Linked DNA regions of Homo sapiens. The protein of the gene in region 1 interacts with the protein of each later gene in a pairwise test. Each region holds a gene or a part of one and is shown in the gene's direction. Other genes may lie near its edges. The genes, in order: ICAM5, KRT222 and AKAP9.

The links.
Region 2: the proteins of ICAM5 (region 1) and KRT222 interact in binary tests that used the Homo sapiens proteins (3 or more experiments, as listed by UniProt).
Region 3: the proteins of ICAM5 (region 1) and AKAP9 interact in binary tests that used the Homo sapiens proteins (3 or more experiments, as listed by UniProt).

The regions. Positions count from the first base shown.
Region 1 is NC_000019.10:10,292,878-10,296,628, forward strand, and holds part of ICAM5 (intercellular adhesion molecule 5 precursor), read left to right. Parts: intron 1-120; coding exon 121-369; intron 370-820; coding exon 821-1,066; intron 1,067-1,162; coding exon 1,163-1,441; intron 1,442-1,523; coding exon 1,524-1,763; intron 1,764-2,468; coding exon 2,469-2,735; intron 2,736-3,461; coding exon 3,462-3,739; 3' UTR 3,740-3,751. UniProt on the Homo sapiens protein: ICAM proteins are ligands for the leukocyte adhesion protein LFA-1 (integrin alpha-L/beta-2).
Region 2 is NC_000017.11:40,663,482-40,667,232, reverse strand, and holds the start of KRT222 (keratin-like protein KRT222), read left to right. Parts: upstream 1-2,055; 5' UTR 2,056-2,133; coding exon 2,134-2,229; intron 2,230-3,751.
Region 3 is NC_000007.14:92,104,729-92,108,479, forward strand, and holds part of AKAP9 (A-kinase anchor protein 9), read left to right. Parts: intron 1-949; coding exon 950-1,035; intron 1,036-2,564; coding exon 2,565-2,694; intron 2,695-3,751. UniProt on the Homo sapiens protein: Scaffolding protein that assembles several protein kinases and phosphatases on the centrosome and Golgi apparatus. Required to maintain the integrity of the Golgi apparatus. Required for microtubule nucleation at the cis-side of the Golgi apparatus.

The DNA.
Region 1 (3,751 bases):
ATAACCCCTCGCCCCCCACCTTCTGGTGACTTCCAAGGACCCGCCTGCTCCCTCACCGTGTCGTGGAGGCGGAGCCATTTCTTACGTCTAAGCCTCTGTAACCCCACGCCCTGCCCGCAGACGCTCCCCGGCTAGACGATTCGGACTGCCCCAGGAGTTGGACGTGGCCCGAGGGCCCAGAGCAGACGCTGCGCTGCGAGGCCCGCGGGAACCCAGAACCCTCAGTGCACTGTGCGCGCTCCGACGGCGGGGCCGTGCTGGCTCTGGGCCTGCTGGGTCCAGTCACTCGGGCGCTCTCAGGCACTTACCGCTGCAAGGCGGCCAATGATCAAGGCGAGGCGGTCAAGGACGTAACGCTAACGGTGGAGTGTGAGTGGGGGTGCGCAGGGTGCATTTCTATCTGGTTCAAGGTCTGGAGGGTGGCCAGCCTCCAGGGAAGAGTAGGAGTAGGGTATGAGGTGTCCCTTTGGGTGAGGTTTTGGGAAAGGGAAGAGGCTGGTTAGTGGGGTTGGAGAAAGATCTTGGAGGATGGAAGGGACCGGGTGGGCGTGCCCCTAGCCTAGGGCGTGGTATTTGGGCGGAGTCGTGGAAAGGCGGGCAGTCCAGAGTGTTTAAGTTTTTAGACGAAAAAGGCGCCACTGGTGGCTCAGGAAGCTCCCAGACAGAGTGCATGCCTCGACTAGCGTGACACCTCCTTGGATCGGCGTCCAAGGGTTATGCAGGGACAACACTTCGTGGAAGCCTTGCCGCGCCAAGGAGGGTCTAGGGACGTCAGATTTGCCCCCAAACCCCAAAGCCAACAATACACTCCCTCCTCCAGACGCACCAGCGCTGGACAGCGTGGGCTGCCCAGAACGCATTACTTGGCTGGAGGGAACAGAAGCCTCGCTGAGCTGTGTGGCGCACGGGGTACCGCCGCCTGATGTGATCTGCGTGCGCTCTGGAGAACTCGGGGCCGTCATCGAGGGGCTGTTGCGTGTGGCCCGGGAGCATGCGGGCACTTACCGCTGCGAAGCCACCAACCCTCGGGGCTCTGCGGCCAAAAATGTGGCCGTCACGGTGGAATGTGAGTAGGGGCACCGCGGAGTTAGGCAGGATCTGTGGGACAACCCCGGCTGGACTTCCTGGCCCCCGTGTGAGCCCCTGCAATCCTGTTTCCCAGATGGCCCCAGGTTTGAGGAGCCGAGCTGCCCCAGCAATTGGACATGGGTGGAAGGATCTGGGCGCCTGTTTTCCTGTGAGGTCGATGGGAAGCCACAGCCAAGCGTGAAGTGCGTGGGCTCCGGGGGCGCCACTGAGGGGGTGCTGCTGCCGCTGGCACCCCCAGACCCTAGTCCCAGAGCTCCCAGAATCCCTAGAGTCCTGGCACCCGGTATCTACGTCTGCAACGCCACCAACCGCCACGGCTCCGTGGCCAAAACAGTCGTCGTGAGCGCGGAGTGTGAGCGAGGCCCAGGCGGGTAGGGAGCAGGGGTGCCCCACGGTCCAGGCACTCCCTGACATCCCCCATGGCTGCTTTGCAGCGCCACCGGAGATGGATGAATCTACCTGCCCAAGTCACCAGACGTGGCTGGAAGGGGCTGAGGCTTCCGCGCTGGCCTGCGCCGCCCGGGGTCGCCCTTCCCCAGGAGTGCGCTGCTCTCGGGAAGGCATCCCATGGCCTGAGCAGCAGCGCGTGTCCCGAGAGGACGCGGGCACTTACCACTGTGTGGCCACCAATGCGCATGGCACGGACTCCCGGACCGTCACTGTGGGCGTGGAATGTGAGTGGGGGCAGCACCGGATGGAGGGGACACGGTCCTCGGAAGAATGACTCGCAGCGGTGGGAGCATTCAAGGGCACCTCTCCCAATCCCATTCTCGGGGACAGGGAATTCCAGCCTAAACCAGGGGGTAATGAAAATTCTAGCCAGGCGCAGTGGCTCAGGTCTGTAATCCCAACACTTTGGAAGGTTGAGGCGGATGAATCACTTGAGGCCAGGAGTTCGAGACCAGCCCGGCCAACATGGCGAAAACCCGTCTCTACAAAAATTAGCCGGTCGTGGTGGTGGGCGCCTGTGGTCCCAGCTACTTGGGAGGCTGAGGCAGGAGAATCGCTTGAGCCTGGGAGGCAGAGGTTGCAGGGAGCCGAGATCCCGCCACTGCACTCCAGCCTGGGCAACAGAGTGAGACTCTTTCTTAGAAAAACAGAAAAAGAAAATTATAGGGAATAGGAGCACGGCCCTCCTCAAATCCTGGATTAGAACACTGACCTGGGCTTCACCTCCTTCCATTCGGTGAAGAAGGGCGAGGAATTTTAGCCGCAACAGCAGCCTGATTGTCGGGGAAGGAGGCTCTGATAGGAGGCAGGATCCTCTTCTGCCCATCAGAGGCGCGGTGGTCTCCCATCGATCGTTGTGGGCCGGAGCAGGGCATTTGATCAGTGGCTGGGCCGGCGCTAAGCCCCACTTCACCTTCTGTGCCCTTCAGACCGGCCAGTGGTGGCCGAACTTGCTGCCTCGCCCCCTGGAGGCGTGCGCCCAGGAGGAAACTTCACGTTGACCTGCCGCGCGGAGGCCTGGCCTCCAGCCCAGATCAGCTGGCGCGCGCCCCCGGGGGCCCTCAACATCGGCCTGTCGAGCAACAACAGCACACTGAGCGTGGCAGGCGCCATGGGAAGCCACGGCGGCGAGTACGAGTGCGCAGCCACCAACGCGCACGGGCGCCACGCGCGGCGCATCACGGTGCGCGTGGCCGGTAAGTGGCAGCTGGGGAGAGGCGGGGCGAGGTATCTGAGAGGGGGCGTGACCTGGGTCTTGGGGCGGCCGGCCCCGCCTGCCTCCCTCTCGGTCCCGGTAGACTAGACGGAAGTGGGACAGAGTAGAAGTCAAAGGTGCCTTAGCGGGTGGGGCTGTTGATCGCACTTTGAGGGGTGGGAGATGGAGGTGGCAGGGGGACTGAATTCAAGGGGAGGGACCCTCCGGGGCTGTCACTGCTGCAGGAAAGGACTTTAAAACTTGGGCTGGATTCTGCGTGGTGGAAACTTGACCCAATTCACAATCCACTGTGGGGAAGATTGGGGAGGGACCAAAGTCATTGGATGTTGGAGGGAGAGAGGGGTCAAGATCGCCTTCTCTCACTTCCTGAAGCTCCTGGGGCTGGGTTCTCTCTGGGGTCGGGGGAACCTGACCTGGTCCTGCCGGTCCTCATTTTTTGGGGGATGGGGAGAGTTGACTTGTCGCCAGGGGGCTAAGTGTGGTCACGGGTTTATATCCCCATGGGCTGAAGTGCGATATAAATCGGGACTCGGGTCGCCCTGGCACTGGGAGTGGCCTTATTGCATGGGTTGTCTCCCTTCTCCCAAGGCCAGACAGTGAGCTCCCCGGGGCATGAGGACTGACTTCGTGCCTGTGGGAGTGCGGGGGGCGGTGGGAGAAGCCCCCCGGAGCTTGGCCACCCTCCGCGAGGGTCTCCACCCCGCAGGTCCGTGGCTATGGGTCGCCGTGGGCGGCGCGGCGGGGGGCGCGGCGCTGCTGGCCGCGGGGGCCGGCCTGGCCTTCTACGTGCAGTCCACCGCCTGCAAGAAGGGCGAGTACAACGTGCAGGAGGCCGAGAGCTCAGGCGAGGCCGTGTGTCTGAACGGAGCGGGCGGCGGCGCTGGCGGGGCGGCAGGCGCGGAGGGCGGACCCGAGGCGGCGGGGGGCGCGGCCGAGTCGCCGGCGGAGGGCGAGGTCTTCGCCATACAGCTGACATCGGCGTGAGCCCGCTCCCCT
Region 2 (3,751 bases), on another chromosome or scaffold:
GTCTTGAACTCCTGAGCTCAAGCCATCCTCCCGCCTCAGCCTCCCAAAGTGCTGGGATTACAGGGGTGAGCCACTGTGCCCAGCTATTGAGCACTTTAAATGTGGCTGTTCCAAGCTGAGATGCGATGTAAGTATAAAATACACTTGGATTTCAAAGACAGTATCAAGAATAATGTAAAAGATCTCATTAACATTTTATATGGGTTGCTGCATTTTGGATATATCAAGTTAAATAAAATATAGTCGTAAAATTAATTTCACTTCTTTTTGTTTCAATCTTTTGATATGGCTACTAGAAAGTTTGGAAGGACATCTGTGGTTTGCATTTGTGGTTTGTGTTATATTTCCACTGGACAGTGCTGCTTTATTTAGGGTGCATAAGAAATGCTGGCAGACCTATTTAAAATGCAGATTGCCAGGACTGACCCTCCAGGGAATCTAGTTCAGCTCTCTGTGTTTCAGGCGGATATTAGCAGGAGCTACCTAAAGTAGCAGGAAGCATTTAATTCATTGCTCCCTGAATTTAATTTAGGAATTTAATTCATTGCTTTCTTCTCTCTCCTCCACTCCCAAGCCTAATTCTCTTCATATTTCTCAGTCCCAGTTACCAAGAAAGAGAATCAGTTTGGCCTAGATAATCATTAATGACTCTCTTTAGTCAGAGCTTTCTGTCTCAGCCTACTCCAAAGGTCTCTGACCAATCTATAGATAATCAAGTTGTGACTGATGGGGAAGGTGCAGGAGGTAGGGAGGGGTGGGTCAGAAATAACCTGGAACCTCTCCTCTCACCAGGAGCTGTGGGTAGGACAGCTTTGTTTGGAGAGGGCTGTGAGAATGCCCAGCATAGACTGGCCTGGCCAGATGTGAGTTAATTCAGAAATTAAAAGAGCAGGACATGCATGCAAAGGCCCTGTAAGGGCTAGAACCCAGGTCTGATTATCTCCTGAACTGTGCTCCAGATACAATTCAGCCAAAGCCACTCCACAAATAACAATAATGATAGATCCACTCTCACGACATATTTCTGTCACATCTAGCAACCAGCTGGCAAGATTAAACCAGGAATTTAGAAGGGGAGAGAGAGAACGCAGAGGCAGATATGCAGGGGTAATACATGGAACACAAGCAAGTTGTCAAAGAGCCAGTCCCAGTGATGTCATACATCACTGAGCAACCTTGGGCAAGATGCCTCAACCTCTCTGGCCTCAGTCTTTTCATCTTTACAGGTTAGAAAATGTCAGGGATTGCAAGGATTGGATGGAATGATACGCCAAATACACCCTCCGAAGGGCTCAAGTGATTGCAACGATTGGATGGAATGGTACACTGACTACACCCTCCAAAGGACTCAAGGGTTCTTTTGGTGAATACACCAAAAGGTCTATTTCTTCATCCTTGTTAAAACTTTGGAAATGTTAACTCACAACTCTCATAGTCTACCAGCACTTATCTGCAACATTTTGAGAAAACTAAATATAATTTTCTTTTTTTTTTTTTTTTTTTTTTTTGGAGATGGAGTCTCACTCTGTCACCCAGGCTGGAGTGCAGTGGCTCAATCTCGGCTCACTGCAACCTCCACCTCCTGGGTTCAAGCAATTCTCCTGCCTCAGCCTCCCGAGTAGCTGGGATTACAGGCACCCACCACCACGCCCAGCTAATTTTTGTATTTTTAGTAAAGACAGGGTTTCATCATGTTGGCCAGGCTGATCTCGAACTCCCGACCTCAGGTGATCCACCCACCTCAACCTCCTAAAGTGCTGGGATTACAGGCATGAGCCACCATGCCCGGCAATTTTCTTATGTTATGCCCCATTTCCTTTTCACAAAAATGAACTCCCCCTCCCCTCAAAGTGCTCAATTTTTACAGGGAACCAGTACAGGTTTTTGAAATTTTCCTTTCCTTCATGAAGAATCTGACATTTCTACTATACCAATAACAATAGGAGCAAAGAGTTTACCCTGTATTTGCATAATTAGTTAGAAAGATGAGAATTTCCGTGGCCTCCGAAAAAGGAGCTCTGCATCTTTAAAACTCTGCGAGGCTCCCTGCCTTCCGCGCAGACCGAGCAGACTGCCGCAGCGACTCATCCTATCGATAAGGTTCAGTTAGCCAAGGTGGAGGATGGGAAAAGAATGGAACTGTCCCAGCTACTCAATGAGATCAGGGCAAACTATGAAAAGATCCTCACCAGAAATCAGATAGAGACGGTGCTCTCAACAAGGATCCAGGTAATGATTTCATACAGACAGGCACCTTCCAGAATAAGGAGACAGTCCATGTCTACCCAATTCCTGTCCCGGCCTCTCTGAGGTACAGTATTTCCTTTTCGATGCAGCATCTATTGGGGAAGGAATTTAGCTTCTACTGCAGTGTGACTGGGACTACAGGGGGAAATACTGTGATTATATTGTTAAATTGCCATTAAGTAAGTGTTGATTGATGCATTTGATTTTTATATAAATTGTGAGGTTCCTATCATTAACATGGGGTCAACATACCATAAAATGGTGCACTCTAACCTCTTACAATCTTCAGGAAGGAACCATTCCAAATACCCTTCAAAGATATTATTGGAGTTATTTACAGAGATAATTTAAATAACATCTTTAAAATGAAAAATCTTTAAGTAAGATTTATTAGCATGTACACTTTCTAGAGATATTTCTAAAAGGTTTCTATCATCTTTTTAACGAGTTCCATTTTATACCAGATTGTTATAAATAGAAATCATCTGAGTGTGTGAACATGGCATTCAGAAACAATGATATAAATTATGACCATTGAAATTCCCCAAATTGGTAACGATTCTCCACTAAGATTTTTGCTTCTGTACTATAAGATGAGAAACATTTCTTTCCATTACAAAGCTTGTAATATTTAAGTATTTAAAAAAGAGAAAGAGAGCCTACTTAGATAAGGACTAAATCCTAATTTCATAGACTTAGTTTTAAAGTAACAATCACCTTCAGCAAGTAATTAAGGTCTCAAGTCTTTAAACAAATTTACAAACAAATATTTTAGAAACAAAGATTAAGAAATTTAGGGGATTTTTTAGTTTACCTATCATATATGGGTTCAAGTTATCTTCCAAACCCTGAAATACAGCAAAAAGTTTACTTAAGAATATCACCCAAAATTTTAAAAAAAAAAATTGGTAGAAAAATGTCAGGCCTTTATTCCATTAGCCACTCATTTTTAGTTCCATTGTAAATTTCACCTCTAGATAACATTTTCAGCCTTCATAAAGAATGATCAACATCTTAGATTAAGCAAAGTCACTGGTACAGGTAAGCATTGGGATAGTTCATTCACCTTTACAAACAGAAGAAAAAAATCAATAGATGACAACTTCTAAAAATCATAAACAAAACACTTAACTTTGCAGTAGTAGAAATATGAGTTTAGTTTACAAGTCACAGGGCCAAAATGAGTAAATTCAAATGAAAAAGCAAGACTACGGTGAGTTTTGTTTAAAGTGTCTTTTAATTTGAAACTACTTTAGAGGATTTTCTTCCAAATAACTCAGAAAGTCAGCTGAAATAAATTCAAGACAGCCTGATTAGTTATTTTTTTAAATTTCTAAATAAGCTATTTTAGTTACAGATTGTTGTATAACACCCCAAAACTCATCTGGGACCTCAATCGTCTTGGGGCATGACTGGGCTCACTTATGTGTCTGGCACTTTGGCAGGGCATTGCCGAAAGGCTGGCTCTGCTGGGACTTTCTCTCTCACTTCACGTAGCCTCAGG
Region 3 (3,751 bases), on another chromosome or scaffold:
ATTGTAGTCTCCTGGTTTCATTTACTCTTCCTCACCTTTCATTTCCTTCATCACCTTGTATAGAGTAAACCAGGGTAAGTGCTGGTAGATGCATTGATGAAAAAATATATAATCCTGCCTAAATACCTAAAGGCAGCTCACTTTCTAGTGGGGAAGACTAATATGCACAGAACTTAGAATATAATAAGTAAATGGGAGGTCACAGGAGTTAGCTAGTAATTTTGATTAGAGGGATCTAGAGAGGCTTCATGAGAGCGGTGTAGAAGTTGTTATTGACATACTTCACTCTGCCCCACTTTTTCTTATCCAAGATTATGTTTATCATATTTTGACCCTCCTAAGATGGAGCCTTGGAACTGATTCAAAGTAAATCAAAACTGGTGCTCCAAAAGCTCCTTGGGCCAAGATGGGGAAGAAGGTCGTAACTTGCTGCACCTGGGTCATGAAGCTAACACTCCCATTCCTTTTGAAACCAACGTTTTTTTGTCCCTGATCAAAGGGACAAGAGCTTCACCCACCTTGCAGCATTCCCAGCACATTCTTATTGCCAATTTAAGGGTCTTTTTGTTCTCTTCTTATCTCATCTGCCCTTTATTCTCTGTTCTTTTCTCTTTTCATTACTTCTCACCCTTTCTTTGCCTATCTGCTTTTCCCATCTACTTTTGCCTTCCATCTCCTTATACCCCATTTATCCCTCAAGCTGGAACCTGATGCTGGCAATATAAGAGACCTCTAATGCCTCTTGGGAAGGGGATGAGGGGATTTTGAGTCCCTATTCTTCCGTTCCAGTTGATTTTGTCACAACAGGCATTGACATAGTTTAACTGGGCAATTGTGAAATTTGACATTTGTTCTATGTTCATATTTAAACGTGTGATGTGATTTTTGTAGGAAATGTATATACTGTTTATAGATGGGCTGTGAAATTTTATCTTGGAATCTTTTTTAGAATGAAATTTTTGGTTCGACGGTGGCATCGAGTCACAGGTTCTGTTTCCATCAATATTAACAGAGATGGCTTTGGACTGAATCAAGGTGAAGTCAAAATAGCATATTTTCTTATGTTTATGACTCTCTAAATCAGAGGTCCCCCACCCCCAGACTATGGACCATACTTGTCTGTGGCCTGTTAGGAACCAGGCCGCACAGCAGCAGGTGAGCAGCGGGCATTACTGCCCGAGCTCCACCTCCTGTCAGATCAGCCGTGGCATTAGATTCTCATAGGAGCACAAATCCTATTGTGAACTGCACATGTGAGGAATCTAGGTTGTGTGCTCCTTATGAGAATCTAACTAATGCCTGATTATCTGGGGTGGAACAGTTTCATCCAGAAACCATTCTGGCCCCTTTGGGTCCATGGAAAAATTGTCTTCCATGAAATGTGTCCCTGGTGCCAAAAAGGTTGGGGACTGCTGCTCTGAATTACTGCATGTGTAATACTTACCAAGTAATGAATTCTGGAAGCAATGTTTTCCAAAGACAAAGCCCTTATAACTGCCAAAACTAGGTAACTTCACTGTTTTAAAGAGGGTAATAATAACTGATTTTCATGGAGAACTTAGTCTGCACCTGGCCATGCTCTTTTCATGTATTCTCCCAATCCTATGATATAAGTACAGTTTTACTACTCTCACTTTTAGATGAAAAATCGAGGCATGGAAAACACAAGTCATTTGCCCCAGAATGGCCAGTAGGGAAGTGATGGAACCAGGACCAAACACTGGCAGTCTGGGTCCAGAGCCCACACTCTTCATAACTGCATTTAAGGCACGGTTCAAGACAGGATTGCTGTTAGTCATATGGAAGAATTAGGAAGTTTTCATAATTTAACAATATTCAAACAAGTTTCTGAGTTTACCAACAGGTTGTATAATAATGGTAACAGCTAAAATTCCTTCTGTCTACACCTAGAAGTGGAAACAAACTAGGGCTTGAACATTTCTGGCAATAAAGATGAGGTCCGAATCTGGGGAGCACACAGAGGACACAGCATCCCTGTGCTGTGTATTCATAGTAAACCACCTTTACATACTCTACCAGGAGCTGAGCATCCTACAGAGGGGAAATAGATTTGGTACCCTACACAAAGTATTTTGAAATATCATTACACTGAAACAGCTGAAATTTGTACCATAATAAGTTGTGTTTTATTAAAAGTTAGCAAATCTTGGTTTCAAGTCAGTAGATTGGAATGGTTACATTGGTCTAATATTTTTTATCCACATCATTTCCCACAAGCCACACCCACTCAGACACCCCTCACCTCTCATCTACTTAGAGCTAAGGTCTTTAAAGAAGAAAATATGCCAATTAAATAATTTTCTTTGAGACATAATTCCAGATATCAGAAATACTCATATTCAAAAGTAAACAAAATAACATTTGAAAGCCGAATTTTTGTTTGTACTGTTTTCTCCTTTATCAAGAATAATAGAAAATGACTATAAATAGGAGATTGTATAATATAGTATAATAGTCTTTTGAGCAGTTACCTATTTTGTAGAAATTTTTTAAGGTCTTGGGATTTTATTTTTCTTTACAAGGAATATTTTGGGTTACTTTAGGTGCAGAAAAGACTGACTCATTTTATCATTCTTCTGGTGGGCTGGAGTTATATGGAGAACCAAGACATACTACGTATCGCTCAAGATCAGATCTGGACTATATTAGGTCCCCTTTACCATTTCAGAATAGGTAAGAATATGAGAAAACCTGCCTGGAATTGTTAAATGTATTAATATTTAACAGAGATAAATGGACATTTTTAGGGCTTTGACTTCTTTGCATTGAGATAGACATCTTTGTTATATATAATTTACATAATATGACCAAGTGCGGTGGCTCACACCTATAATCCCAGCACTTTGGGAGGCTGAGGCGGGCAGATCATGAGGTCAGGAGTTCAAGACCAGCTAGTTGGAGACTAGCCTGGCCAACATGGTGAAACCCTGTCTCTACTAAAAATACAAAAAATTAGCCAGGCGTGGTGGCAGGCGCCTGTGGTCCCAGCTACTTGGGAGGCTGAGGCAGGAGAATGGTGTGAACCCGGGAGGCGGAGCTGGCAGTGAGCTGAGATTGTGCCACTGCACTCTGGCCTGGGCAACGGAGCGAGACTCTGTCTCAAAAAAAAATACAAAAAAATTAGCCAGGCATGGTGGTGGGTGCCTGTAATCCCAGCTACTCAGGAGGCTGAGGCAGGAGAATCGCTTGAACTCAGGAGGTGGAGGTTGCAGTGAGCCGAGGTCACGCCACTGCACTCTAGCCTGGGCAACAAAGCAAGATTTGGTCTCCAAAAAAAAAAAAAAAGAAAAAAAATATACATAACCTAAGGCTTAATGTAAAAATGTAAAAACCAGTGTTTAAATTTGTAACTGATTTCCAAGGGTATAGCAAACAAGCTGACCAAGTGTTATTTAGTGTATGCTATGGTTAGATATTGGGAAAAGTATTGACTAAAATTGATACTCTGATCATTATGAAAAGCTTAACAGTCTTCATGACAAGATACATTTATACATACCCAATTTATTGAGACCTCTGCCACAAGCATTGTATTGGACATTCTTATGTTGACTTAGTAGCATCTTTGAATTCATTGGAGAGTTGTCTCTTTCTCATCCCAAGCTCCAAAGCTGAAGCTTGGAGGAGATACATTATGTGTGTACAAGTGACCCACCTTTTTGGGGAAGGGAGTGGAGGCAGGTTGGTAACTTATATGCATATTTCTGGATAACTTGATTCATGTACATAT